Regions from separate parts of the Homo sapiens genome. Here region 1 is linked to region 2. The links come from fine-mapping of genetic effects on gene expression. A gene starts in region 2. The other region holds a variant in brackets. All regions are shown on one strand. Distances are from middle to middle.

The links. PIP is the estimated chance that this variant, and not a neighbour inherited with it, causes the effect. A credible set is the group of variants that fine-mapping cannot tell apart.
Region 1: its variant is the best candidate, but not a certain one, in a credible set for the expression of ANKRD31 in memory regulatory T cells (Schmiedel 2018, PIP 0.86).

What each region holds. Positions count from the first base shown.
Region 1 is chr5:74,589,307-74,604,622 of GRCh38, forward strand. No RefSeq gene overlaps it. Among named protein-coding and RNA genes, the nearest start is that of ENC1, 44 kb to the right of the region's middle. RefSeq lists a cis regulatory region at 2,719-3,079 and a silencer at 4,958-5,252. The variant ATG/A (reference allele first, on the strand shown) is at 7,997.
Region 2 is chr5:75,231,560-75,246,875 of GRCh38, forward strand. ANKRD31 (ankyrin repeat domain 31) reads right to left here and starts at 5,319. Exons shown (of 26, transcript NM_001372053.1): 1 at 5,024-5,319. The coding sequence starts at 5,127. It overlaps LOC124901006 (a long non-coding RNA gene), which reads left to right and starts at 5,479. Exons shown (of 2, transcript XR_007058823.1): 1 at 5,479-5,807; 2 at 9,178-9,329. RefSeq lists an enhancer at 5,040-5,209 and a silencer at 5,260-5,559.

The sequences.
Region 1 (15,316 bases), 640 kb before region 2:
GCTCCCAAGAGGAAACCTACCACAATAGTAAAGTTGTATATTTCCACAGGGATTTTCCCTAAACTGTTAATGAGTTGTGACTTCCTTATATGTACATGCAGACGAGACTGGTGCACCCCAAGCAGGTAGACAGAATTTGAACCAGATGGTTCAAGGAAAGAAAACTGGATTAGCAGATCATTTCAAACACCTCCATGTGTTGACTGAAATCCGTAAGGGGAATGACAAAACATGTACCTTATTTTCTCAACAAACTGTGCACCGCACTGAATGTTAAACATTAAATTGAGAGAGGGGTAGAGCAAACTCTGGTTTTTCTTTCTTTGTCATTAGAACCATAAGCCTAGTTTTGCCTCATTAATGTATCTAGAGAGATTTTAAAAAATAAATAAATAAGCATGGCTCCTTCATAAATTCATACCACTGAAGGACCCTCTGGTAATCCTGCAGCAGTGGTATTTGAATAAATTGGAGGTGGCAAGGGTGTGTCTCATTTCTATGAGTTCCTGGTTTGGAAAGCAAATCTCATTTTGCTTGTTTTTCCAGTTTAAACAGTAAACCGTAGGGTCATTGAAACTGGGGCCGATGCAAATTAAGGCACTTTCCAGCACTCACGCCCCCTCAGCCTCCCACCTGTTTAATTAAAGCCAAATTTGGTTGGGGAGTAAACTGGCATTTACAAATCAGGAGAAAATCTGGTTCCAGTAATTAAAGGGATTTTCTAAATCTTGTCCTCCATGTTAGAACACTCATTTTAATAGTTAATTAAAGACTCTTTAACCATCCTTTGAGAGAAATTTTAAAAAGAAAAGATTAGGGACCTGCCACACAGATACTACAGACAACAGAAACGGAAATTCTTTTTTAAACCCTTTAGGGGAAACTAAGGTCTTCTTTTCCTTACAATGCTTTGGGCATGAAGACTTTTTTTTTTCTCTTAATAAAAGGAGATACTCATTTGCTTTTGTATTGCTGAGGGTAGCCCTGCAAATTTCACAGCTATTCCATAAATATAAGCCAGCTTGCAAGTCACCCACATACCACTGCCACTTTAGTTAGGGTAGGTTGGGAAAATAGATGTTTTATTCCTTTGGTTTCCCAAGCTATGGGTAGTGCCAAAGAGCCGAACACCTTAGGCAGAGGTCCCCCAGGCACAAGGATGAGCAACATTCCTCCTGGAGATCCATGTGCCTCTCGTATTCCAAATGGTTTTAAACTAGGTGAGGTCGACCAACCAACATTTATCCAGCACTGTGCTAGGTGCTAGGAGGGCACACAGGTGAATACAGTATAGTCCTTGCTGCTCTGGACGTGAACATAATGAAGGAGACAATACATGTTCAGGCAATGCTAATTCAAGGCACACAGATATAGAAGATACACTGGAAGTAGAAACAAAGGACAGGGGGACAGGGAGAGAGACTCTGAACAAGAAGCCCTCCCAGAGAGGTGAGTCAAACTGTTCAATAGGTAGAAGAAGCAGATAGCTGCAGAATAATATTCCCAGACAGAGAACAAAGGCACAGTGGCAAGAGTCTATAGATGCCTGAAGCTGGAGCGAAGGGCTCCTGGGGAAAGGGGTTGAGCAGAGGGGAAGAAAGCATGAGTTCAGCAAAGGCCGTGTTGTGGAGGGACCTTCCCACCAGCTGTGAAATTTGCTTCATAGTACAGAGAAAAGGTTTGGGAGCTATGGAACTAAATGGTTGGGGACCAAAAAGAGACTTAGGCAAAAGACCAATTCAGATGTCACTGCTCAATTCTGTGGCTGTGTTATAGGAAAGGGGTCCCAATCTGGACCCCAAGAGAGGGTTCTTGGATCTTGTGCAAGAATGAATTCGGGGCGAGTCTGTACAGTAAACTGAAAGCAAGTTTTTTAAGAGAGTAAAGGAATAGGCTGGGCACGGTGGCTCACACCTGTAATCCCAGCACTCTGGGAGGCTGAGGCAGGAGGATCATTTGAGGTCAGGAGTTCCAGACCAGCCTGGCCAACATGGTGGAACCCCATATCTACCAAAAATGTAAAAAATTAGCCGGGTGTGGTGGTGCGTGCTTGTAATCCCAGCTACTCTGGTGGCTGAGGCAGGAGAATCACTTGAACCCAGGAGGCAGAGGTTGCAGTGAGCTGAGGTCACGCCACTGCACTCCAGCCTGGGTGACAGAGCAAGACTCTGTCGTGCTCTCATATTCGAAATGAGTTAAAAAAAAAAAAAAGAAGAAGAAAAAGAAAGTAAAGGAATGAAAGAATGGCTACTCCATAGACAGAGCAACCCTGAGGGCAGCTTGTTGCCCATTTTTATGGTTATTTCATGACGATATGCTAAACAAGGGGTGGATTATTCATGCTGCCCCTTTTTAGACCATATAGGGAACTTCCTGATGTTGCCATGGCATTTGTAAACTGTCAGGGTGCTGGTGGGAGTGTAGCAGTGAGGACGACCAGAGGTCACTCTCATCGCCATCTTGCTTTTGGTGGGTTTTGGCTGGCTTCTTTACTGCAAACTGTTTTATCAGCAAGGTCTTTATAACCTGTATTTTGTGCCGACCTCCTGTCTCATCCTGTGACTTAGAATGCCTTAACCATCTGGGAATGCAGCCCAGGAGGTCTCAGCTTCATTTTACCCATTCAAGATGGAGTTGCTCTGGTTCACATGCCTCTGACAGAAGCAGCACCCAGAAGTGAACTCTAAGGCAGACGTCTTCAAAGAGAGCTACTCACATCCCCGCGGTCCGCAGACTTACGGAGGACCATACGCTAAGTGGATCATTCTAAGGGAATCAGTGTCTAGATCCTCAACTTCTGTATGGTGTCTTTTCTAAAACTGTCTAATAAACATAATCACACTTGAAAAAAAAAAAAAGTCATACCCTTAACCTATCCCATATCTTTCTGTAGCAGGGTAATGAGTCATCAAAGTCCCTTAACCCCACAGACTTCCTGTCTTTCCCCATCATCTTGGCTCTTTCTGTTAGGATGAGCCTTGATCTTTTTTGGAGGTAATGAATTCAAAATAATCAACCGCCATACAGATTTGTGGCATTGATTATTTAATGTTCCTGGAACGTTTCCTACAATTATCAACTTTTTAAAAATAAAACCCACAGGTAAAATTATTTATATTTGAATTCATTCTGATTCAGTGTTTCAGAAAGATACTTAAAATCTATTTTATCAAATCTATCATATTTATTTCCGCTATAGTCAGCTCTAATCTTATTTCAAATTATAATATGGTTAATGTTTTCTACCTTCTATTAACAGAGAGTGAACGTCTTTAAATCCATGATGAAAAATTTTAGTTGTTAACTTAAATATTCACGAGGGAACACGTAGTTTTTGAAAAGTCTTTTGGGAGTACCCACACAAACATGTTTGAAGAAACACAATTTCCTTGGAATGTCAGTAGGACTTTGGTAGGGAAACAACATGGCAGAAGGGTGATGGGGCAGGTTTCGGTGGTAACTTAAATTTGAGAAATGCTACATTTCAGTTGAACAGAACTTGGATCCCTTAAGATGCTCATGGACATTAAGATTCTTTCAAGAGGGGGATTTATAGTATTCAGTTTCTCCTGAGTTTTGACCACAGGAGAAGGGCAGCACCAAGGGGTAACTTGAGAGTGTCTTATACCTCCCCTCAGTAATCTCCATTTGCTACGACCACTCCCCATGAAAATAAACTAAGTACAGAATCTTACTATAAACTTGAGCTTCAAGCAGTGTGTGCTGGAGCCTGCTCATACAGACTCACACCAACCTAGGCACAATTGACAATCAAATGTCTCTTCAGAAACACGTTCTGGAGCAACATTTTTTTTTTTTTTTTGAGACGGAGTCTTGCTCTGCCTCCCAGGCTGGAGTGCATGGGCACTATCTCGCCTCACTGCAACCTGCACCTCCCGGGCTCAAGCGATTCTCATGCCTCAGCCTCCCAAGTAGCTGGGATTACAGGTCCACCACCACCACTCCCAGCCAGTTTTTGTATTTTTAGTAGAGACAGGGTTTCCCCATGTTGGCCAGCCGGTCTCAAACTCCTGACCTCAGGTGATCCACCTGCCTCAGCCTCCAAAGTGCTGGGATTACAGGTGTGAGCCACTTCACCCAGCCTGAAGCAACATTTCTCTTTTGTTTATTTGTTTGAGACGCAGTCACTTTGTTGCCCAGGCTGGAGTGCCATGGCACCATCTCGGCTCACTGCAACCTCCGCCTCCCAGATTCAAGCGATTCTTGTGCCTCAGCCTCCCGGGTAGCTCAGATTACAGCTGTGTGCCACCATGCCCAGCTAATTTTTTGTGTTTTTAGTAGAGACGGGTTTCACTGTGTTGGCCAGCCTGGTCTTGAACTCCTGACCTTGTGATCTGCCCACCTCAGCCTCCCAAAGTGCTGGGATTACAGGTATGAGCCACCGTGCCCGGCCGTTTCTCAATATCATTTTGTATGAATACACACAGCTTCTGTTCATAGATCATTTCTGATTTGGGCTTTACAAATGGCATATTCTTCACACCATAACTGTGTAGAAAGAAGCCAGTAGGCTAAAGGCATGAGGCAGAAGTTGAGACAAACCCTGTGATAAAGAACTTCCTGTATCATCAATTCATGCTACAGATCAAATCCTATCACCCATGTATATACCACGTGGTATACCTCCCCAGCGCAACCCAGAATGCTTACAAGTATTGTCTTTCCCCTTCTTGAACAAGATTCTAAAAGTATGCTTGTTGTCCATATAATACCCCTAAAACACCTCTCATTTAATTAATTCTCTGGAAAAACAAAAGATGTCTTTTCAATTCCAAAATTAATAAAATTTCTCATTTGATTTCAATTTAACAAGATGACCTATTGATTGACTGAATCTTTGACTTTTCAACTGAGCATTTTGCCTTTGTGTTTGCCAATGACATATGTCATTGTGCGAAATGGAAAGGCCATCTGGCAAGAACTGCTCTGCTAGATGAAGAATGCTGGTATTCTTACAGCACTGATGCTCAGTATTGAACTATGTTGAATGCTATAAAAATGAAAGCTTCTCCAACAAAAAATGTCCTTCAGAGGCAAGCTTTGTATCTCCCCGTCACATCTGTGCTTTCTCTGCGTGATGACGAGTGATTCTAACATAGCCTTCCTTTGCCCTCAGAGTCCCCACAGAGCAATGTAAAGGAATTGGGTAATTCTCTTATGTAGGGTAAGCAACATATAATTTCAGAAATGAAATGGGAGTCTCTTTTTAAAAGGCAATGCAATTGCCTATTAACTTTCTTTAATTACAACACATCATTACATTATTTTGTAATTACATATTTTCTAAGCCATCTGTTTTGTCTGCTTGACAGAGAGCCCTCCAAGGGCAAGGATTGCTTGTGTCTTATCTTCATATCCCCAATGGCACAGAGACGGACTTGAAGTAGGCAGTCAGTAAGTATTTGTTAAATGAGTGAATGAAAAATGGAATGAATGCATTCAGGATTTGAATCCCTATCTTCTCCTGGACACAGTGATCTGGTCAATCCAAGAACCATCTTAACAGTATCTTTTGGTCAAACTAGTTGCTATGACTTGTCTGCACAACAGTGTAACAGGAAACAACTGACATATCTCTGTCTTAGAAATCTGCTCTGCCCTATATTCTCTGAATAGTTTGACTAAAACGTATTGCCCATTCAATTTTGGAGCTGTTCCAGGTTTAGATTTTCTTTTATACTTTGATATTTAAGTTTCCTACTTTCCAAAATACTAAATACTTCATTTTTCTGATGATGATGACTGCTTTTAAATTTACATTTCTCCCCTGTTCATCTTCTCTGCCACTTTTAAAACACACTAATCCTTTCTGTCTATATTTTCTGATATTGTTCCAGTTAAATTTCTTCTTTGGAAAATAAAAATATCTTTTTTGTTTCCTTTATTTCTTTCCTGTAATTTGTTCCCAAGGCCTCGAGTCTAAAAGCTGTCTTTGACCCTTGAACTTATGCTGAGTTCCCATAGCCACTTCCTCAGCTGGCCTGCCTGGCGCTATCTCTAAAACATTCCTAGAATTGCTCCTTGCTGAGACCGAAACCCATGTGCTCACCTTAATCTCAACTTATCTTGACTTCCAATTTTTCCATATATGGTCCTCATACCTCCCTATTGTCTGAAGGTCCACAGAGGAAATCTGTTCCACATCAAGAAGTATATATATATATACATATATATTACTTTCTTGGTTGTTCTCTTCTCCTCTGGCATTTTGGAACTTTCCTGGGCTAACTTCTATCCTCAAATCTGATATTGGTCTTCAAATTATTTCATTTGAGCCAGTGATCACATGTAGAAGCTTGTGTTTTATTTTGTTTTGTTTTTCCACTGGCTCTGCTACTCACAGGATAAAAAGTTGGAGACAAGGTATTGAACTTGACTCAGTGAGTAGAAAGCAGGGATTTAAAATACTTGGCATATGTCCTGCTTTGGAGTGCAGCTCTAAGAATGAATGAGTCTAAAACCACAGCAAAGAATTTATTATTATAGATCTCTATTAGCAGTACTATCACTTTACTGATGATGGTAATGGAGCTCATAATAATATAAAGAAACGCATTAGCAAACATGGAATCTCAGAAAGACTCTATTACATAGTCTTTAAGAATTACCTGGGCTGGGCTCAGTGGCTCACACCTATATTCTCAGCACTTTGGGAGGCTAAGATGGGAGGATTGCTTGAGGCCAGGAGTTCAAGACCAGCCCGGGGAACATAGAAAGACCCTATTTGTACAATAATAATAATAAATTAATAATTAATTTTAAAATAAGAATTACCTGGCCAGGCGTGGTGGCTCTTGCCTGTAATCAATCCCAGCACTTTGGGAGGCCGAGGCGGGCGGATCACGAGGTCAGGAGATCGAGACCATCCTGGCTAACACGGTGAAACCCCGTCTCTACTAAAAATACAAAAAATCAGCCAGGCCTGGTGGCAGGCGCCTGTAGTCCCAGCTACTTGGGAGGCTGAGGCAGGAGAATGGTGTGAACCAGGGAGGTGGGGCTTGCAGTGAGCCAAGACTGTGCCACTGCACTCCAGCCTGGGCAACAGAGCAAGACTCTGTCAAAAAAAAAAAAAAAAAAAAAAAAAAAAAAAAAAAGTACCTGCCCACAGTGCTACCTCCCTTCTCTAAATCACACTGGATTTTTTCATGACTATCAAACTGCCCAGCGATTAATTGTTCTCTTACCATTTCCTGTGGATTATCTTTGCCCCTGATGAGACCCATGGAAACAAGACCTATGGAGTCCAGCTCTAAGGATGAATAAGTGTAAAACCATAGCAGAGAATTTATTATTATGGATCTCTATTAGCAGTACTATAATTTTACTGATGATGGCAATGGAACTCATAATAATATAAAGAAATGCATTAGCAAACATGGAAGCTCAGAAAGGCTCTATCTTTCTCTTGCACTCTGCAGTACCAGCTTGAGGACAAGTCACATAATAAGCTCACAAGAATACTTTTTGATTGGTGATGAAATTTCATCCTGATGATTCTCTTTATCATAGTGAATAAAGAATGGTTTATGGCTTCTAATAAGATTGCAAAGTTGAAAAATCACTAAGTTCAATTACATCTCTAGGAAAGAATTGCTCTGAGCCTTCCCAAAGCCCTGAACACAGTCCCCAGCAATCCCTGTGCACTTACGGCTGAATTTCCTGCATATTTCCCTGCTCTGGCTAGTCTCCTGCCATGGGAGCCGATGCAGAACAGCACCACCTCTCTTTTTAACTCGCCCACCTTTCCTGACCACATTCCTCTCGGCCTCCTCACGTTTGTAGGTCAAACCCTGGAAAGGCCACATTTATCAGAGACAATTGACTCAAAAGGCATAAAGACCCCCCACAGCCACTCACTGCTGTACTAGCCCCTTAGTCCTCATTCCTCGTCTCTACTGCCAAAGAAAAGGAGAAATTCACATTTGTTAAGCCTCTGCTCTGGGCCAGGGACTCCTCTGTTAGGTTGTTTTACTGG[ATG/A]TGTGTGTGTGTGTGTGTGTGTGTGTGTGTGTGTGTGTCTTCCCAACTATCTCTCTCCTCCCTTTATTACTCTTTTTGTACTTTCTTCTCTCTCCTTCTCTCTGCTAGAAGTAACTTTGGAACTGGTTTAAGATTGATGTGCTGGAAATGTATAACAAGCCAGATTTTCATGGTGTAATTAGTGCCGTCGTGGCTAATTTCTTTTTTTTTTTCTTCAAGATGGGGTTTCACTCTGGAGTGGCACGTGCCATCACACCTGGCTAATGTTTGTACTTTTTGTAGATATGGGGTTGTGCCATATCACCTAGGCTGGTCTCGAACTCCTGACCTCAAGTGATCTGCCCACTTTGGCCTCCCAAAGTGTTGAGATCACAGGCATGAGCCACTGCACCCGACCATGGCCAATTTCAAGTTACAAACATGGTCACTGAATGCAGACTGAGACGTGCACAATCCACTCCTGTCAGCAGGGTGGAGCGCCTCTGGTTTGGAGTAAGGGTAGGCAGCTCTGCAACTCAAAACTCTCTTTCCCCAGAGTTCTGTGAAACCAATTCATAAAGAATACATACAAATCTGGCTTCTTTCGGTGGGTGTAGGGGGCACAGCAGAGTTCAGTGGGGCATCTTACTTTAATTTTTTTTTTCAGGAATGGTCTTGTTCTGTTGCCCAGGCTGGAGTGCAGTGGTGCAATCACAGCTCACTGCAGCCTGGAACTCCTAGCCTCAAGCAATCCTCATGCCTCAGCCTCCTGAGTAGCTACAACTTACAGGCATGCACCACTACGCCTGGTTAATTTTTCATGGTTTGTTTTTTTTTTTTAATCAAATATTGGGTCTCGCTATGTTTTTGCCCACGCTTGTCTCAAACTCCTGGCCGCGAGCTATCCTCCCACCTTGGCCTTCCAAAGCGCTAGGATTACAGGCGTGAGCCACCGTGTCCAGCCATTACTTTTACATTTTGACTTGTGCCTCTTGTTATATGTGGAGGATCAATTATTTATCCACCACTGCCCAACGTTCATTACAGGAAAAAGGCTGCTCAGCTTGTGAAAAGCGTTTGCTCCAGTTTCTTTCATTTGAAGCATGCAAAGTAGTTTTAACAAATGGCACTTAATAAAAAATAAATGGTACCTTAAGACCGTTCATGCAGAGGACTTCCTGACAATGACTGGAAGTGCCAACTAGCCCATGAGCTAATTATCCTGTAAATTCCCTTTTCTTCCCCAGTGTGGAGGTGAGATCTAATTTGAAAGATTAAAATCTTTGCATGATTACAGTATATCATAATTGTTAAGCTCTATAGTTACATGCTCAATAGCTACTAAGTAAGTGCAAAGAATTACAAGGTGATTTGTGCCTGTAAGATAAATTCCAAGAATTTTGCTTCTAAAAAGGCAGGGAAGTGGAGGTGGCAGAATAAAAAATGTGCTAAGTGAAGTGATTTATTGTGAACTTTAGGAAAGGGAGACTTTGGGGTCTCAGGATTCATAGACAGGCCAAATCATAGAATGCCTTCACATGCATTTCTTAGGTTGTGCTAAACTTTACATAAAAGCACCACTCAAGTGGATGAAGTTGTCTAAGGAGTATTTAGATTGTACTTTGGGAAGGGTTCCAAATGTCTGCTATTCTCATAGTAGAGGAAACCACCAAAGTATATTTCCAACAACCTCAAGCACGAAAAGCCAAGTCCAATCTTCTTCAACTCAGTGCCAGAGAAATAATATGAATACACACACACACACACACGTATGTGAAATAAAAACAATAAAAATGTTAAAGAAGAAAGAAAAATAATAAAGCTTTTAGTAGTTATAGTTCCAACTCCACCACTACTTCGTTTTGTGCCAACAGTTCTTTGGTAGATCTTACTAATTCTTTAGTAGACTTCACACTGGAAAATTCATTCATTAAACAAATATTTATTCAGCACCTAGGGCATACCAGGCTCCTGTTCTTGGTACTGGGGACATGATTTAAAAAAAGATAGATTAAGAGCTCTGCTCTCTTTGAGCTCAGAGTCCAGCAGGAAGAAAGGTTTAAAAATTAAGTATTGGGCCAGGTGTGGTGGCATGTGCCTGTGGTCCCAGCTACTCCAGAGGCTGAAGTGGAAGGACCCCTTGAGTCCAGGAGGTCGAGGGTACAATGAGCCATGATTGAGCCACTGCACTCCAGCCTGGGCAACAGAGCAAGAGCCCGTCTAAATAAGTAAATAAAATAAGTACTAATTACAAGTCCTAGGAAGAAGAAGAACAGGGTGCTGTGAAAAGTGTAAAGGTCTATCCTGGTTTGGGAGTCAAGGAAAGCATGAATGAGAAAGTGACAATGCATAATTTGACCTAAGGATGAGTAGGCACTAGCCAGGAGAAAGGGAGAAGGGCAAAGCCAGGCCTTTCTCCAATCAAGCAATGCAAAAGGAGTTTCTAAAACTATTGTCTGGTAATGCCTTTCTCCTCCCATCCTTGAAGATCCTCAGACTAGTTTGCTCATTATAGCTAAGATCTCTTTAATTTTTCTAGCTGTAACTTCTGATGTTACTGATAGCTGTAGGCATAATTTTAAGAGGACAGGAAATATCAGATTTGATGAAATTGGGCCCTTAGGAAGACAGGCAATAATGAGTTTCTAGAAATTAATTCTCAGAATGGTCCAGGAGTGGCTTGAGAATCCAGTCTGTGCAGGTATCCAGGAGTCTGGCTTACTGACACAACATGGGGTAAATGGCGGCTCACTGGTGGTTGGTAAACAGAACCATCTCAGGCAACCAAAAAGGATACAAAGTGACAAACACAACTAGATAATTGTCCATTTTATACCTCATATTTAATTGTAATGACTCAGCTTAAACCATGTCAATGTCGAGAATTTTTGGAAAATTCACCCATTTCCCTTAAAGGTAGGATTTTTCATCTGACACCAGAATAGGAGCTGCACCATTCACTTATCTTAGCCTACTTAGTATGTTATTATTGGATAGGTTTTAAACCCATATGATTATGTCAATAAATGCAGAAAAAGTGTTTAATAAAATTCAACATCGCTTCATGATAAAAACCCTAAATATATGTAGAAGGAACATATCTCAACACAATAAACACATATGCGACAAACCCATAGCTAACATCGTACTGAGTGAAGAAAAGTTGAAAGCTTTTCCTCAAAGATCAGGAGCAAGACATGGATGTCCACTTTCACCACTTCTATTTAACACAGTACTAGACGTCTCGCCAGAGAAATTAGGCAAGAGAAAAAAATAAGGGGCATCCAAATTGAAAAGGAGGAAGTCGAATTATTCCTGTTTGCAGGCAACAAGATTTTATATATAGAAAACCCTGAAGACTCCACCAAAAGCCTATTAGAACTAATAAATGAATTATGATTTTAGAAGTAGGTTTTGTTCTATAAAGAAAATTAGAAAAGTAAGAAAAAAAAAGTACATCATTAGCCAAATAAAACCATAGCCTATTGTTGGATATAATTCTTTTCAGCCTTTTTTACACATTATTTTTGGGTTTTACTTTTTCTTCTTTTTAATATGACTGATTTAACTCCCCATACAACTGAATGATATTTTATTTTTACTTAACATTCCATCATAAACATTTTGCCTGTTGTGACATACCTTTTGTAAACATTATGTTAAATAATTGTACAATATTTCATGAAGTGAATATGTCATTGTTTGCCTCACCAGTCTTCTGTGGTGGGACATTTAGGGCCCCCATTAACATTCCTTTTAACTAGAAGTTTGTTTTGGTTTGTTTTGGTTTTGCTTTTTGAGACAGAGTCTCACTCTGTCGCCCAGGCTGGAGTACAGTGGTACCATCTTGGCTCACTGCAACCTCCACCTCTGGGTTCAAGCAACTCTCCTGCCTCAGCCTCCCAAGTAACTGGAACTATAGGCACACACCACCACACCCAGCTAGTTTTTTTATTTTTAGTAGAGATGGAGTTTCACCATCTTGACCAGGCTGGTCTCAAACTCCTGTACTCAGGTGATTCACCCACCTTGGCCTCCCAAAGTGCTAGGATTATGGGCATGAGCCACCATGCCCAGCCTTAACTAGAAGTTTTTTTAATCAGTGGGATTACTTTCATAGTAAGGACTCTTAGATGTTGCATAATTGGGTCGAAGGTATAAAACTTTTAAAGATTCCTAAAATGTATATAGTTCAAATTGTGTTTTCAAATAGTATATCAATTTATGCTCCCATTGACAATGTATGAAAGCACCCATCCTTGTCAGCTCGCTCTCTCTCTCACTTTCTCACCATTTACTAAGTGCAACTTTTACTAATTTCTTGGGCAAAAAAAAAAAAAAGAAAGAAAGGATGGTATTTTGTCTTAGTTTGTGCCTTACAAGGCTAACATTACCCTGATACCAAGACCAGACAAGTACACAACAAAAAAAGAAAACTGTAGGCCAATATCTCTGATGGACATAGATGCAAAAATCCTCCACAAAATACTAGCAAATCAAATCCAACAGCACGTTAAAAAGATCATTCACCACGATAAAGTGGGATTCATCCCGGGGATACAAGGATGGTTCAACATAAGTCAATAAACCTGATACATCACATTCAGAATGAGGGATAAAACCCATATGATTATCTCAACACATGCAGAAAAAGTGTTTAATAAGATTCAACATCCTTCATGATAAAAACCCTAATATGTGTAGAAGGAACATATCTCAACACAATAAACACATGTGACAAACCCATAGCTAACATCGTACTGAGTGAGGAAAAGTTGAAAGCTTTTCCTCAAAGATCAGGAGCAAGACACAGTACTAGAAGTCTTAGCCAGAGACATTAGGCAAGAGAAAAAAATAACGGACATCCAAATTGAGAAGGAGGAAGTTGAATTATTCCTGTTTGCAGGAAACATGATTTTATATATAGAAAACCCTGAAGACTCCACCAAAAGCCTGTTAGAACTAATAAATGAATTCAGTAAGGTTGCAGGATAACACTCGACATACAATTCCTAGTGCTATTTTATTTTTATGTAACATCCCATCAAAAATATTTTCCCCATTGTGACATAGCTTTTGTAAATATTATGTTTATGTTAAAATTCTGTGGCATCTGTTGAGAAGCAAGGAGAACAGGAAAAAATTAGTAGCATTTTAATATGCCAACAACAAACTATCTGTAAAAGAAATCAAGAAAGCAATCCCATTTATAAAAACTACAAATACAATAAAATGCATAGGAATAAATTTAACCAAGAAAGTTGTCTAATTTTTCTACAGTGAAAACTATAAAACACTGATTTTAAAAAATTGAACAGGACATTAATAAATGGAAAGCTATCCTGAGTTCATTGATTAGAAGAATTAATAATGTTAAAATATCCAAACTACCCAAAACTGTCTACCAATTTAATGCAATCTCTATCAAAACACCAAGGACATTTTTCACTGAAATAGAAAAAACAATCCTAAAATTTGCATGGAACCACAAAATATCCCAAACAGCCAAAGCGTTCTTGAGCAAAACAACATAGCTGAAGGCACCACCCTAACTGACTTTAAAATATACGACAAAACAGTACTAGGCAAAACAGCATGGTACTGGCAGAAAAACAGACACAGACCAATGCAACAAAATAGAGGACCCAGAAATAAATTCATGCATTTAAAGCTATCTGAGCTTTGACAAAGGCACCAAGAAAACACACTGAGGAAAGGAAGTGTCTTCAATAAATGGTGCTGGGAAAACTGGATCTCCACATGCAGAAGAATGAAACTAGACCCCAATTTCTTACCACTTACAAAAACCAAATCAAAACAGACTAAAGACTTAAATATAAGACCCCAAACTATGAAACTACTAAAAGAAAACATAGGGGAAATACTTCATGACATTGATCTGGGTAATAATTTTTTTAATCAGACCTCAAAAGCACAGGTGACAAAAGTGAAATAGACAAGCAGGATTACATCAAACTGAAAAGCTTCTGCACAGCAAAGGAAACAATCCGCAGAGTGGTGAGGCAATCAACAGAATGGGAGAAAATATTCACAAACTATGCACCTAAAAAGGGATTACTATCCAGAATATGTAAGAAAGTCAAAAAACTCAATAGCAAAAAAAAAAAAAAAAAATCTAACTTTAAAATGGACAAAAGACTGACATTTCTCAAAAGAAGTTATACAAATGGCCAACAGGTTATGAAAAAGTACTCAATATCACTAAGCATTGGGGAAATGCAAACCAAAACCACAATGAGATATCATCTCACCCCAGTTAGAATGGCTACTATCAAAAAGACAAAAAATAAACAAATGTTACGAGGATGTGGATAAAGGGGAACTTGTACACTGTGGTGGGAATGTAAATTTGTATAGCCATTACAGACAACAGTATGGAGTTCCTCAATAAGTTAACAATAAAACTACCATATGAACCAACAATCCCACCACTGGGTGTATATCCAAAGGAAAGGAAATCAGTGTGTGGAAGAGGTATCTGCATTCCCATGTTTATTGCAGCACTAATCACAATAGCCAAGATATGGAATCACCCTAAGTGTCCATCAATGGATGAATGTATTAAAAAATTGTGGTATATATGCACAACAGAATACTATTCAGCCATAAAAAGAATGAAATCCTTTATTTGAGACAACATGCATAAATGTAGAAGACATTAAGTAAAATAAGCCAAGCACAGAAGAGCAAATACCACATGATTTCATTTATGTGGAATCTTAAAAAGTTGATCTCATAGAAGTAGGGAGTAGAGGCTGGGTGCGGTGGCTCACGCATGTAATCCCAGCAATTTGGGAGGCCGAGGCAGGTGGATCACCTGAGGTCAAGAGTTCCAGACCAGTCTGGCGAACATGGTGAAACCCCGTCTCAACTAAAAATACAAAAATTAGCCAGGCATGGTGGCAGGCGCCTGTAATCCCAGCTACTGGGGAGGCTGAGGCAGGAAAATCATTTGAACCCAGGAGGTGGAATTGCAGTGAGACGAGATTGCACCATTGCACTCCAGCCTAGGTGACAGAGATTCTGTCTCAAAAAAAAAAAGTAGAGAGTAGAACAGTGGTTACCAGAGGAAAAAAAGAAGGGAGATGAGGAGAGGTTGGTGAAGAGGTACAAAGTTACAGTTAGATATGAGAAATAAGTTCTGGTGTGATATTGCACAGTAGGGTGACTATAGTAAATAACAATGTATTGCATATTTTCAAAATACCTAGAAGAGAGGATTTTGAATGTTCCCACCAGAAAGAAATAATAAACATTTGAGATAACGGATATGCTAATTACCCTGACTGATTGTCATAACAGTGTATATATGCATCAA
Region 2 (15,316 bases):
TCTATTTAAATGAGCAGAAAATGGACAAAAGACTTGAATAGACATTTCTGCAAAAACGAAATACAAATAGCCAACAAGTACACGAAACGAAAAGATGTTCATCATCACTAATCATAGGGGAAATGCAAATCAAAACCACGAAGATACCACTTCATACTCATTAGGATGGCTGTTTATGAAAAATGAAAAATTAAGCCAGGTACTATCACTCACTGAGTAGCTGAGTAATCCCAGCTACTCAGGAGGCTGAAGCAGGAAGATGGCTTGAGGCCAGTTCAAGGCTGCAGTGAGCTATGATCAGGCCATTGCACTCCAGCCTAAGTGACAAAGTGAGACACTGTCTCAAAACACACACACACACACACACACACACACACACACACACACACAACTTTCTAATAGTTCTCAGCATCAGAAAAGTTGGCAATGAAAAGGACTCTAATCCTTAACTTTTCTATTATAACACACCCTCTGTGAGAGTGAGTACAGGCTCCTGCTATAAGAAGAAAAGCATTTTCTTGGCTCTTTTCTACTGACCATTACTAAGGATCAAAAATGCATTATTAGAATATGAATTATACCATAGCTATAGTGCATTTTTCCAAGAAGTAAACCATCTACTGATGTTCCTCCAAAAAGTAAAATTATCTATTAATGTCCCTAAAAGGGTAAGTTTATCTCTTAAAATGTTGTGAGGTTTTTTGTTTGTTTGTTTTTTTCTTTTCAGACACAGTCACTCTGTCACCCAGGCTGGAATGAAGTGGCACCATCTCAGCTCACTACAACCTCCACCGCCCAGGTTCAAGTGATCCTCCTGCCTCAGCCTCCCAAGTAGCTGAGATTACAAGTGCCTGCCATCAGGCCCAGCTAATTCTTGTATTTTTAGTAGACACAGGGTTTTACCATGTTGGCCAGGCTAGTCTCGAACTCCTGACCTTCAGGTCTCGACCTCCCTAAATGCTGGGATTACAGCTGTGAGCGACTGCACCCAACCAAATTTTGTGTGTTTTTTTTTTTTAATTTAAAAATAACACAAAAGGGGTATGGAAGAATTTTGGGGGATAATGACACTATTCTATATCTTGATTGTGATAGTAGTTACACAATTATGTTTGTCAAAACTCAGAACCATACTCTTAAAAAGGTGAACTTTATGTAAATTCCTCCTTGAAGGGTGACAGAATATGCCACCCCAAAATAAGCCACTGTGACATACGGATTACTCTGAGCTAAAGGCAACTTGAAAAACAGCAGATGCTTCCCTTTTCCTTCTTGAAAACAGGAGATAAAAACTCCTATGTAAAAGATGCCCTCCCTGTAGAAGGAGAAAAGAAACATTTCTCAATAGCCAAGAGAATTCTGTACAAACAGATCTTGTTAAAATAATTCTTGTCTTCCTTTAGCCTCCCTACATAATTTAGTTACTTTTCCACAACTGCCTCTCTTTGTTTAACCCAATACAAAAGCACATAGGTTCTACCATTTCTTTTTTTAATTTTTTCTTTTCCTTTTTTTTTTTTGAGATGGGAGTCTTGCTGTGTTGTCCAGGCTGGAGTGCAGTGATATAATCGCAGCTTACTGCAACCTCCGCCTTCCAGGTTCAAGCGATTCTCCTGCCTCAGCCTCCTGAGTAGCTGGGACTACAGGTGCATGCCACCATGCCCGGTTAATTTTTGTATTTTTAATAGAGACAGGATTTCACCTTGTTGGCCAGGCTGGTCTCGAACTCCTGACCTCAAGTGATCTGCCCACCTCAGCCTCCCAAAGCACTGGGATAACAGGCATCAGCTACCATGCCCAACCAGGTTTTGCCATTTCTTTGGGTCTTCATTTCCTTATGAGGACTCCTGTGTCCCATAAAACTTATTTTAAATTTACATAAGTTTTAATATTTAAAGTATTTAATCTATTTCATATTTAATTCTTAGGCTTAACCAGGGCCCTATGAGGAGAAAGGCAGAATTTCTGCCCCTACTAAAATCTTAATTAAAAATAAAAAACTAATATAAATATGTTAATATTCTAATATGTAAACGTAAAAATTTAACATTATGCCAATAAAAGTACCAATAAGGGCCGGGCACAGTGACTCATGCCTGTAATCCCAGCACTTTGGGAGGCTGAAGTGGGGAGATCACTTGAAGTCAGGAGTTCGAGACCAGCCTGGCCATCATGGTGAAACCCCATCTATACTAAAAATACAAAAATTAGCTGGGCATGGTGGTATGCGCCTGTAGTCCCAGCTACTCAGCAGACCCAGGCAAGAGAATGGCTTGAACCTGGGTGGATGGAAGCTGCCGTGAGCTGAGATCATGCTACTGCACTCCAGCCTGGGTGATAGAATGAGACTCCGTCTCAAAAAAAAAAATAGTCCAGATTCTTTCCTAAGGAAATTATTTTTAAAAACCCCAACAATTTATGCTTAAGGAAATTATCTCAGAGTTATTTGCAATAACAAAAAATTAAAAACAAACTAAATGTTTTGTTTTAAAATCATATAATGCTTCAACAAATTATCCCTTTATGACAGAAAACTATCAATAATTTAGGGAAGAATTTTAATGACATTGCAAATGTTTAAAAATAATGTTAAGCGAAAACTGTAAACTTGTACAAATTGATTCAAACTTTGTAAAAGAATTATAGGTGCACACACAAAAGCCTACATAGAAAGCTGGAAGAAAATATACCAAAGTCTTAATACAAGTAGAATTAGGTCAGATTTCTATCTCATTCATGCTTCTTTTTATTGCTCATGTTTCCTATAGTGTTCCTGAATAGACAATATATTTATATGGTTCAAAATTCAAAAACCAGTATAGACTAGCCCTGATTACTCATGCTCATAGTCCTCACTACTCAGGGAGCTGAGGCAGGAAGATCACTTCAGCCTAGGAGTTAGAGGCTTCAGTGAGCTATGACTGCACTATTGCATTCCAGACTGGACAATAGTGTAAGATCCAGTCTCCAAAACAAACAATATAATAGGGTATGTAGTAAAATATCTCTCTGTCCCCTCAAATATAAGCTTTCTTTCCCACAGGCAACCAAGGTGTTTGATTGTTTTGTAATTCTTTCAGAGATATTTTCTAAGTGTATATATGTTGGAAGACAGAGGTAACACTATTTTCTAAAAACAGAAGCACTGTGTCAAAGAGTATATGTGTTTGTAATCTTGATAATTGAAATTTTTTGAGTTTTGTATTATAATTATATCTTTCTTCCTCTACAGTTATAAAAGAATCCCTTTTTGGCTTCTTGTAATACTTTTTGGTTTTTTTTTAACATTTACATCTTTGATTCATATGGAATTTTTTTGGAGTACAGTGTGAAATATGGATTCAACTAAACTATTTTCTACATACATCCTTCATCATCCCAATATCATTTTTTGAAAAATCCCATCATTTCCTCGCTGGTTTGAGATGCCACCTCTGTAATACACTAAATTCCCATATGTATGTGATTCTATTTTGGGGGTTTTTATGCTGTTTATTGATCTGTCACTTTATGTGCCAGTATCATATTTAAAATATTTTATATCAGAAAATATTTTAATATCCTATAGGTCATTACCTCCTTATTGTTCTTATTTTTCAGACTTTTCCTAATTGCTCTTATTTATTTTACGATATAAACTTTGGAATCAGTTGTCTAGTTCAACAGAAAGTCTTGCTGGTACTTTTTTTTTTTTTTTTTTTTTTGAGATAGAGTCTCACTCTGTCGCCCAGGCTGGAGTGCAGTGGAGTCATTTTGGCTCATAGCAACCTCTGCCTGTTTCTCATTACAACCAAAAACTCCGAATGAATATTTTTTAAAAACTACTCGAGAACCTTGAAAAGTAAACAATAGCAGGTAGATTGGGGACTGAAGTTGAAATCTTAATAACAACCCATTTATTGACGAGTTTCAGTTTGTTTTCGGTTTTTTGGTTCTTTTTTGTCTTTCAGCTTTGAACCATCCAGTGGGCACAGACAGTAAACCTATTTTTATCCAGAAGACCAAGGAAAATGACCCCTGCATGCCAGAAGGTATAGGACAAAGCCCAGGGCTTTATGTTGCTTTCTCTCTCACCTCCCAGCCCTGCCCCAAGGCTGGCCCTAGCCTCAGAGCAGACACCAACCATGGCAACTGGGGAACATAAAACTCAAGAGAAAGTGTCTACCAGAGGAACTGGGAAAAGGGATCGGTATTGCCTGAAAAGTGTGGACAGAATCCCCCTTTTTTCTCTCTTTTCTTAACTCTGTGCTAAAGGCTGTCCCCCTTGTAAGGAACTGCTGTATAGTGAAAAGGCTAACACTCAAAGAAACCTGTCTTTCTGATCATATGAACTGGCAAGTGGGTATGATGAGGAAAGGGGGCAGGAGAATCCTGGAGAAGAGAGAGAGGGAAAGGAGAATGACCTAATTCTGTGTACGATCCAACTTAAGTCCCAGACACAGCCCTGAGCACATATGAAGCAGACCTAGTGGCCTCATCCCTGCCCTCTTTTCCCTGTGTCTAGCACAGAGAATATGTTAGAGAAAGGTTTCGATAACCTGAAATACCGACTTTTTTGGATTCGTATAAAACTATTCGTTTCCAGTTTGGCAGGGACCAGTTTCCCCATCACACATTCTTTTCTTGAGAGAAACTGTTACCCATTTTCCTAGAACTGAGCTACGAGTCTCTTGAAGCAAAATGAAGTCTCCTGAAACAAAATGCAGTTAAGTTCAGACCCAAGATCTTTTTTGCTTGTGCAAAAAGACTTAAAGCCCCCAAAAGGAAAGCCTTTTGAAAAATGCTATAAAGCCACCTAGTACAAACCTCATTTTATCCCTAGCTGGTTGGGGGTAGGTGGGAACAGACTGTGTTTGCTTATTTACAAGCTCTCAGCTCAGGCACGGCTGCCCCACAAGGCTCTGATCCTGCCCACAAGCACATGTTCTGGTCACGATCTCCACTCAAAACTCTGACCCCCTCAGAGGGCACCTGGGCCGCCCTGGCGCGAGGGTTCAGGCACTGTGGCCCTAATGATGGTCACCTTCTCCAGGGCAGCTCCTTTTCTTCCAGGTCGCTCTCCGTCACTGAACCCTCTATCACAGTTTCATCACTGTCCCAGTCTGGGGCCTGGACGCCTTCCTCCATCTTTGCCTCACATTCAAAGTCTTTTTTACCCTCCTCTAACTCCCTCTTGCCCGCAAACAAAAAAACGCTTTGAGGGCCAGGGGAAATTGTGAATTAAAAATAAAAATAATATAATCGCAGCAGGAGCCGGGACTTGTCGCAGGGCTGCTGAGGAGGACGCAGGCGGCCGCGAGCGCGGCGGGGTAGCAGTCTGCGAGGCGGCCCGCGGGTCCCGCCGCTCGTCGCAGACAGGGGGCAGCCGCTCGCCACACGACGGAGCCCTGCGCAGCGCTCGGCCCCGCCCCCAGCTCCCGTGGCCGGAAGTGGGAGGCCGCGCGCGCGCGCGCAGGCCTACTCTGGGCGTGGCCTGCCGCTGCGTGTTTTTTTCACGGTTTCTCATTCTCGGTCGCTAGGCTTTGAGGGTGCTGGGGTTGCTGCTGCAGAGACCAGAAAGGCAGGCGTGGCGCACCCAGAACTCAGACCGAGCCTGCTTAACACCCTTGGCCGGGAGGGTGACCTGCCATGCACCTGATGCTTGTGAGCCCCAGATACGGGAAGAGCTGTCAGCTCCTGCCCGCCCCAGCAGCCCTGGCATTCTGGAGCCAGAATGCGACCTTAGACCTAAAGAGAGTTTTTGCAGCCCACCAAGTGCTTCCTTTCCCTTTAATCCCTTGACAGCCTCTCCTCAAGTGTCCTCTGAGGTAGACAAAACAGATACGTTTATCAGAAGTTTTAGCTCATCAACTAATCTCAGTGATGTATTTTGCATTTTTTTTTTCTCTCAACAACGCTTTGGTTACCTGAAATACAGATTATGCAGGAAAGGCAGGATAAATGCTTTATTTTTTCCTCTTTTATCAATTTTTATAATAATAGTAATGCCTAGCAACCTCCAAAAGTAGTCAATTGCGTTTTAATGAAGTACTAGAATTTTATATATTTGATGTGTTTCAGTCTAGTTGAACATTTTTAATTCAAACTAATTCAAAACAAAGCCAAGTGAGCTTCCACTTGCCAAGTGAGAAGAAGATTCAAGAAAAGACCAAGTTGTTTTCCCATAGCAAGTGTTTAGTATTCACCTTGGAGTCTCCAGCATCTAGCACATATAAAGTCTAAGTTTTGTCATAAATGGATGGAGCTAGAGATTTCTGACTTCCCAATTCATTGCCCTTTTCACTATATGGAGTAGCTTTGCCATTATTATCATTATTATTATTTTGTGTTTTTACTATGTATATTCAAGCCACTGCTATTTAAAATGCTTGATTGGTGATTATCTTCTAAACTTAACTTGAGGCTGGGGGTGGTGGCTCTACCTGTAACCTCAATGCATTGGAGGCCGAGGCAGGAGGATTGCTTGAGACCAGAAGTTCAAGACCAGCCTGGGCAACATGGTGAGACCCCTATCTCTGCAAAAAATTTGTTTTTAATTAGCAGGGCATGGTAGCATGGGCCTGTAGTCCCAGCTACTCAGGTTGAGGCGGGAGGATCGCTTGAGCCCAGGAGTTTGAGGTTATAATGAGCTATGATTGAGCAAACGCACTCCAGCCTGAGCAACAGAGTCATACCATGTCTCAAAAAATAAAAAAATAAACTTACTTGAATAAGTAACTTACTTAAATAAAATTCCTCGCCTCAACTCTGTAAATTAGGCAGAGCAATAATAAATATGCAAAGAACTAGACCTCTTTTTTATTTTTTTTAACAGTAGTCCATTTATACCCTCCGTGTCTAAATCAGACCTAAATTCCTATCACCTTTCCTGCTCACCCACTGTTTAATTAATTCATTAGCGCATTCTTCTGTGTTGCCCAAGCTAATCTCCAACTCCTGGGCTCAAGCTGTCCTCCCACCTCACCCTCCCAAATAGCCGGAACTACAATCTCATGCCACTATGCCCACTTCACCCATTCTTTTAATTATCCAACTCTGCTTTCACAGGAATTGGGGGATGCATACCCAGTAAATGGTGGTGAGTGGCTCCATTTGCCCCAGAGGGAAAGATGACTCCACTAGTAACAGTACTTGCTCCAAACAGCTGGTAACAAGCTAAGTGCAATAAGTCCTCACTTAATGTCTGTCGGTAGGGTCTTGGAAACTGCAACCTAAAACAAAATGACTTACAAGGAAACCAATTTTACCATTGTCTAATTGATATATATGAGAGTTAAGTTCTTACAACATATTTCTGGTCACAAAAACATTACCAAACTTGTAAATAAACACCAAAACACCTTTACTATTAAACATTGAAATAAACGTGAGCTATATATATATTTATTAAATATATATATTTAAGAAATATCTTAAATATATATCAGATATTTATTAAATATATATTTAATAATAAATATTTAATATATTTAATAAATATCTAAGATATATATTTAAGATATTTCTTAATATATTTAATATATATAATAAATATCTAAGATATATATTTAAGATATTTCTTAATATATTTAATATATATTTAATAAATATATATAAGAAATGTCATATATATTTAAGAAAGATTAATAAAAATATATATATTTAAGAAAGACTAATAAAAACAAATAAGATAATTATTTACCTAGTCATTCCAGTTCAGGGTTGAGAGTGGCTGGAGCCTATCCTGGCAGCTCAGGGCTCAAGGCAGGAGCCAACCCAGCACAGGAGGCCATTTCATTGAAGAGCGTGCTCACTCACACACACACACTCATTCTGAGACCAGTTAGATAAGTCAATGAGCCTAACATACACATCTTTGGGATGTGAGAGGAAACCAGAATACCTGGAGGAAACATGCTGACATAGGGAGAACATGCAAACTCCACATACACAGTGGCCCTGGCTGGGAAGTATAATAATTTTCTTCCCTCATCAGTGTTGAAACACCATTGAAATAAATGTTATTCGAGGATCTGCTATAGATAAATTCACATTCTTCTGGGCCTGAAATTCACATTCTTTTTAAAAATGCTTTCTCTTTTGGCGGGAAAAAGTCAGTTATTTTTGCATCATCTGTTCTCCTTTTATTTAAGAGAGTTGCTAAGATTCAAAGAATGAAAAAGAAATGGCAGAGATGAGCCTCATAAATGCCAGTGTGATTTTAAATAAACCTTTTTTTGTTTGTTTTTATGAAATCCAAAGTTTCAGTGCAGGACAGAGGTGGAAAAATGAACAGAAGATCTGTTTTAGGAAATCTAGGCTGCAGTACAATTCATACTGGTTTAAGCAGGGTGAGTTGAGTCATGTAATTGAACCAAGGAGAGGTTTCCCAGGTATTTCAGGAATGGCAGGAATCAGGTACTGCAACTGTGTTTCAAAGGAAATAGAGCTCAGCTTTCTTTTGAATTAGTTTGAATTTTCAAATAGATTAAAACATCGCCGAGTATGTAAAAATCTGTAAACATTATTATTAAAAAATAATAATTGGCTACTTTTGGAGGTTGCTAGACACCATTTATTATTCTAAAATTAATAACGATAAAAAGACTTTATCCTGCCTCTCCTATACACTTTATATTCAGAATAACCATAGTTAATGAGGGGGAAAAAAAATTTTTTTTTGAGACGGAGTTTCGCTCTTGTCGTCCAGGCTGGAGTGCTATGGCGCGATCTTGGCTCGCTGCAACCTCCCACCTCCCGGGTTCAAGTGATTCTCCTGCCTCAGCCTCCCAAGGAGCTGGGATTACAGATATGTGCCACCTCACCCGGCTAATTTTGTATTTTTAGTAGAGACGGGGTTTCTCCATGTTGGTCAGGCTGGCCTCGAACTCCTGACCTCAGGTGATTCACCCACCTCGGCCTCCCATAGTGCTGGGATTACAAGCTTCAGCCACCACGCCTGGCCATAATTTTTAAGAAATGTAATTAAATTTTACTTGGTCTACTCCATTTGGGCTATAATCTTACAAGAAAAATGTCCTCTTGGGGAATTATTGTTGTAAAGGTGAATTTAAAATTTTTTTTTGATGTTTAAAAAGAAAAAGAAGGCTCATTATTTTGTGATTACACAATATATTTTGCTTTTATAATTAAGATTCTTCGCTGCCTATAGCTTCATATTATTTATTTCCTATCCAGGTTACTTTGGATCCTAGAACTGTAAGAGATGAGACTTTCATGGAAGATTTGATTTATCATAACACAATATGAATCTCTAAGAGACTAAATCCAGCAGCCACTTTCACCTTAGTAATATTTCTCCCCAAAATAAAACTATATGAAGTATTTCACCAAGTATTCCATGATAAGTATTTTAAAATACACTTTCCCGACAGGGCACAATGGTTCATGTTTGTAATCCCAGCACTTCGGGAGGCAGAGATGGGAGGATCACTTGAGCCGAGGAGCCTGGGCAACATAGAGAGACCCCCATCTCTACAAAAATAAAAATAAATTAGCCAGAAGTGGTGGCGCACATTTGACCCAGGTACTCGGGAGGTTGAAGCAGGAGGATCCCTTGAGCTCAGGAGTTGCAGTGAGCTATGATTGCACCACTGCACTCCAGCCTGGGTGACAAAGTGAGATCCTGTGTCAAAAAAAAAAAAAAAAAAAAAAAATACACTTTCCAAAAGAATCATTTTCTCAAAGACTTAGACTTTTTTTTAAACAAAAATAAGTTACTAATCCATTAACCCAAGCAATTCACATGTTTGGCACAAATTAAAGCTGTCATGTAAACTTTTTTAATGGATGGGAATAAGTATGTAACTGAAAAATCAGGATATGTGAAATCTTTTCTCAAAAACTGCAAAATAATGGAGCACACAAAGGCAAGTTTGCACATGATTAAGTGTTGGTTTAGTACCTAAATTTGTTTGTTTATTTATTTATTTATTTATTTATTTATGAGACGGAGTTCCACTTTTGTTGCCAAGGCTGGAGCACAGTGATGCGATTTCGGCTCACTGCAACCTCCGCCTCCCGGGTTGAAGTAATTCTTCTGCATCAGCCTCCTTCATAGCTGGGATTACAGGCATGTGCCACCACACCTGGCTAATTTTTGTATTTTTTTAGTAGAGACGGGGCTTCGCCATGTTGGCCAGGCTGATCTCGAACTCCTGACCTCAGGTGATCTGCCCGTCTCAGCCTCCCAAAGTGCTGGGACTACAGGGGTAAGCTACCACACCCAGCCCTAAATTTGTTTTTTAGCGATCATTATAGCTGATTCATATGTGTGGGGATATGCCACCCACAACTCCTATAGGCTGTCCCTTCTTAGTGCAGAATTTAATAAGTTCAATTTCACTTTAAAATGGCATAAAATAGACATAAAACACTTCAGAAAGTTGAAAGTACTGTAACCACCCAATGGGTTCTCCTTGCCTGCTGCCTAGACAGAGCCAATTTATCAAGACAGGGAAATTGCAATGAAGAAAGAGTAATTCACGCAGAGCCGGCTATGCAGGAGACCGAAGTTTGTTATTACTGAAATCAGTCTTGCCGAGCATTTGGGGATCAGAGTGTTTAAAGATAATTTGGTGGGTAGGGGCTTGGGAAGTGGGGAGTGCTGAGTGGTCAGGTTGGAGATGGAATCATAGGGGGTGGAAGTTAGGTTTTCTTGCTGTCTTCTGTTCCTGGGTGGATGGCAGAACTGGTTGAGCCAGATTATCAGTCTGGGTGGTGTCAGCTGATCCATCAAGCTCAGGGACTGCAAAATATCTTGGGCACTGATTTTAGGTTTTACAGTAGTGATGTTATCCCCAGAAGCAATTTGGGGAGATTCAGACTCTTGGAGCCAGAGGCTGCATGACCCCCAAATTGTAATTTCTAATCTTATAGCTAACTTGTTAGTCCTGAAAAGACAGACTGATCCCAGGCAAGAAGGGGGTCTTTTCGGGAAAGGGGTATTTTCAATTTTGTTTCAGTCAAACCATGAACTGAACTCCTTCCCAAAGTTAGTTTGGCCTACACCCAGGAATGAACAAGGACAGCTTAAAGGTTAGAAGCAAGACGGAGTTGATTAGGTCAGATTTCTTTCACTGTCTTAATTTCCTAAGTTATAATTTTGCAAAGGTGGTTTCAGTACTGTGAAATTTCAGATGATAGCCTAATATAATTAGTATTTCCAAGATGAAAAACCTCTGAAGAATCACTAATGGTATCTGTTATTCTGGCAATTGATTAAAAGATATATTATAATGAAGCCCATAAAATCAGCAGAGGATGATTGAAAAAACACTTGGCATTTCACAAAGGAGAATCAGAGGACTAGACACACCTAGAGGTAAATTATAACGACCCTCCCCACCCATTACTCCAGGATGCCTACCAGATGTTGCTATTCTATGTGGTCTCTACTATTACAGTTATTCATTGTTTAGTCTATTAGACTGTAAATAATGTTTCTTCAGAAGCAGAAAGGGGCAATAGCTATACACTGATCTTCTGTCTCAGAAGAAATACCTTACAACATTGTATAATTTATCATGATGTGAAAAAAACAATATTGGAACACAGGCATTAAACTATTATTATATATCATCAGGGTTTTGTAAGGATTCTTAGATTACTTTCCCCTTATAAACACAATGTAATGTTGGCATCAAGAATTGGCAATCAAAGTAATAAGGCCATGACAGACTGTCAAAAAGAATTACAGACTCAAATGCAACAGCCTAGAGAACATGACATTGATTTTGTCAACTAGTTTAACAAGTTTGACAGCTTCCTCCTTGCCTGCTTGTCCAGACAAGTGATACTCACTGATGGCCCGAATGCTAAAAAGTCTATATTTCAATGTCTTTCCATTTCTATTCCTCCCCACATCTGGTCTTTTTCTGTGATAGTAACTGATTAAAACATTGGATTTTAAACCATGCTTAACCTAACTCATAATTAAAGAAATATACATTAAAACAGCCAATGACACGTTTGTTGGTTTATTTTATCTATTAGTCTGGCAAAGATTTAAAAAAAGACTGATAATGCTCAGCACTGGCAATGATCGGGGAAAATAGGTGTTCTCATATACTCTTGGAGGGAGATGAGTTCAATCTTTTTTGGAGACCAGTTTGGCAACATCTATGAAAATGTTTCACATGGGCTGGGCACGGTGGCTCATATCTTTAATCCCAGCACTTTGGGAGGCCTAGTCAGGTGGATCATTTGCGGTCAGGAGTTTAAGACCAGCCTGGCCAGCTTGGTGAAAACCTGTCTCTATTAAAAATACAAAAATTAGCAGGGTGTGGTGGCACATGCCTGTAGTCCCAGCTACTTGGGAGGCTAAGGCAGGAGAATCGCTTGAACCTGGGAGGCAGAGGTTGCAGTGAGCCAAGATTGCACCACTGTACTCCAGCCTGGGCAACAGAAAGAGACTCTCTTAAAAAAAAAAAAAAGTTTTACATGTATATACCCCTAGAGATAGCCTTTCCACTTTTAGGAATTTATTCCTATATTACTGATATGCTTGCACCAACTGTAATTTTGAAAAGTTGGAAACAAACTAAGTGTTCATCATTAGGGGATTATGCAGTGAAATACTCTGCTGTCATTATAAAGAATGAAATACGGCTGTATATTAGGACATGTGTAGCTGCCCATGTTACCTTGTTTGCAGAATAAAGCAAAGAGCACAACAACGACAGCTCTGGAATTTCATACAGGAAAGGCTTAAGGATGAAATCTGCTTGGAAGTGAGGGCTCTGAAACTTCACCAAAGCTTGCATTTGAATAGCAAACACGGTTTTCACTTAGCTGCTTACATGGAATATTTGTGGCTTTATCTTAGATTCTATGTTTATTTGTGGTTGTTTAGGAAGGTTAAAGAGATACGAAGATATAAATAAAGCCCTCCACACATACCAAGACACCACCTGATCCTGATACTGCAGAACACCACAAATTTTTATTTCTTCTTTTTATTGAGGTATAATTGACATACAATGAAATGCACAAATCTTGTATTTTCACTTCAATGTGTTTTCTGAGCCATTCTATATTTCTACATTTATTTTGTTTAACAGCATACTCAACTCTAAAGGAAGAGAATGGGAGTTGTAGGTGGGAAAAAAAGGTAATACACAAGCAATAGCTTGAATCTTAAAAGTATAATTTACATAAATAAGACATAATAAAAAGAGAAATTTTAATAATTTCTGGACTGATAATATTGCCAAATAAATACATGATAATGGGATCTTCTTTGTGTAGAACCGAAACAGCCATATAAACAGGTTTAGACTAATGTATTAGTAGGTCTGCCACTGTAGAAAAAAAATACCAGCTATACCCACAAAAAATCCCAGTGACAAGAGGTTAATCAGAATCTTCACATAGTAAAAAAATGCAGTTCAATGATTTTTGACTCTCTCTCTCTCTTCGTGCATGTGTATGTACACACACACACACACAGACACACACACACTCAGGTAACCACCTAAGTACTTAAAACAAGATCAAGAATATTTCCATCACTCCTGCCCTTTCCTCAAAATCCACCTGCAAATGATAGTTTTTCATACAAATGGAATCACACTGTACGTATTTTTTTAAACTGGCTTCTTTTACTTAGTTTTATGTTTTCAAGATTCGCCAACATTGTTTGCACCAGGTCATTCCTTTTTATTGCTGAGTATTGTTATATTATGCAAATAGACCAAATTTGTTCAGTGCATTCTCTTGTTAATGGACATATATGTTATTTTCAGTTTGGACACTGTAATGAATAAGATTGCTATGAACATTCCTGTTGAAATCTTTTTGTGGGTGTATGTTTTCATTTCTCTTTGGGTACATAAATACCTGATGAGCAAAATTCCTGGTCATATAGTAGGTATATGTTTAACTTTATTAAAAAGCTGCCGTGTAGTTCTCCAAAGAGAGGACGACTCCCAACAGCAATGTATGAAAGTTCCCTTTGCGTCATATCTTCACGAGCATTTGTATTGTCAATCTTTTATGTGCCAGCCATTTCAATGGATATGAAATAGTATCTCACTGTGGTATTAATTTGCATTTCCCTCATGCCTAATAATACTAGCAAATTTTTGTGTGCTTGTTGGCTGTCTATATACCTTTCGTGAAGTGTCTATTCAAATTTATTGCACACTTTTCCATTGGGCTGTTTGTATTTTTATTATCGATTTCTAACATTCCTTTACATATTCTGGATATGAGAGGCCTTTGTCAAATATCTGTATCATGAATTTTTTTTATTAGTCTCTGGCTTGTCTATTTTTTTTTTTTAAGAGATGAGGTCTCCCTTTGTCACCCAGGCTGCTGGAGTGCAGTGGCATGAACACGACTCACTGCAGCCTCCACTTCCTGGGCTCAAGTGATCCTTCCACCTCAGCCCCCCATACCCTTCCAAGTGGCTGAGACTACAGGCACACACCACCATGCCTGGCTAATTTTTGTATTTTTTGTAGAGACAGGGTTTTGTCATGTTGACCAGGCTGATTTGGAATTCCTGGGCTTCAGCAATCTGCCCATCTAGGACTCCCAAAGTACTGGAATTACGTGTGCCACCACACCTGGCCTCTTAATATAAGTGTCTTTTGATGAGTAAAAGGTTTTAATTAGGATACTGTCCAATTTATCAGTTTTTTTCTTTTATGATTAGTGCTGGTATTAGTTTCCTAAGGCTGTCATTAACAAATTGCCACAAACTGGATGGCTTAAAACAACAGATACTTATTTTTTATTTATTTACGTATTTGTCTTTTAAGAAAGAGTTTCGCTCTGTCACCAGGCTAGAATGCAGTGGTGCAATCTCGGCTTACTGCAACCTCCGCCTCCCGGGTTCAAGCAATTCTCCTGCCTCAGCCTCCAGAGTAGCTGGGATTACAGGTGTCTGCCACCATGCCCAACTAATTTTTCTATTTTTAGTACAGGCAGGGTTTCACCATGTTGGCCAGGATAGTCTCGGTCTCCTGACCTGTGATCCACCTGCCTTGGCCTCCTGAAGTGCTGGGATTACAGGCATGAGCCACCGCGCCCGGCAACAACAGACATTTGTTTTCTCACCATTCTGGAGGCCAGCAATCTAAAATCAAGATGTGGATGGGGCCATGCTCTTTCTGAAGGTTCTAGAGGACAATCTGTTCCATGCCTTTCTCTTAGTTTCTGACCTTGGCCACAATTCATGGCATTCCTTGGCTTGTAGATGCATCACTCCAATCCCTGCCTTCATCATCACCTGGTGTTCTAGTGCGTTTTTGTCTCTGGGTCTCTTCTTTTCTTATAAGGACACCAATCATATTGGATTAGGGTCCACCTT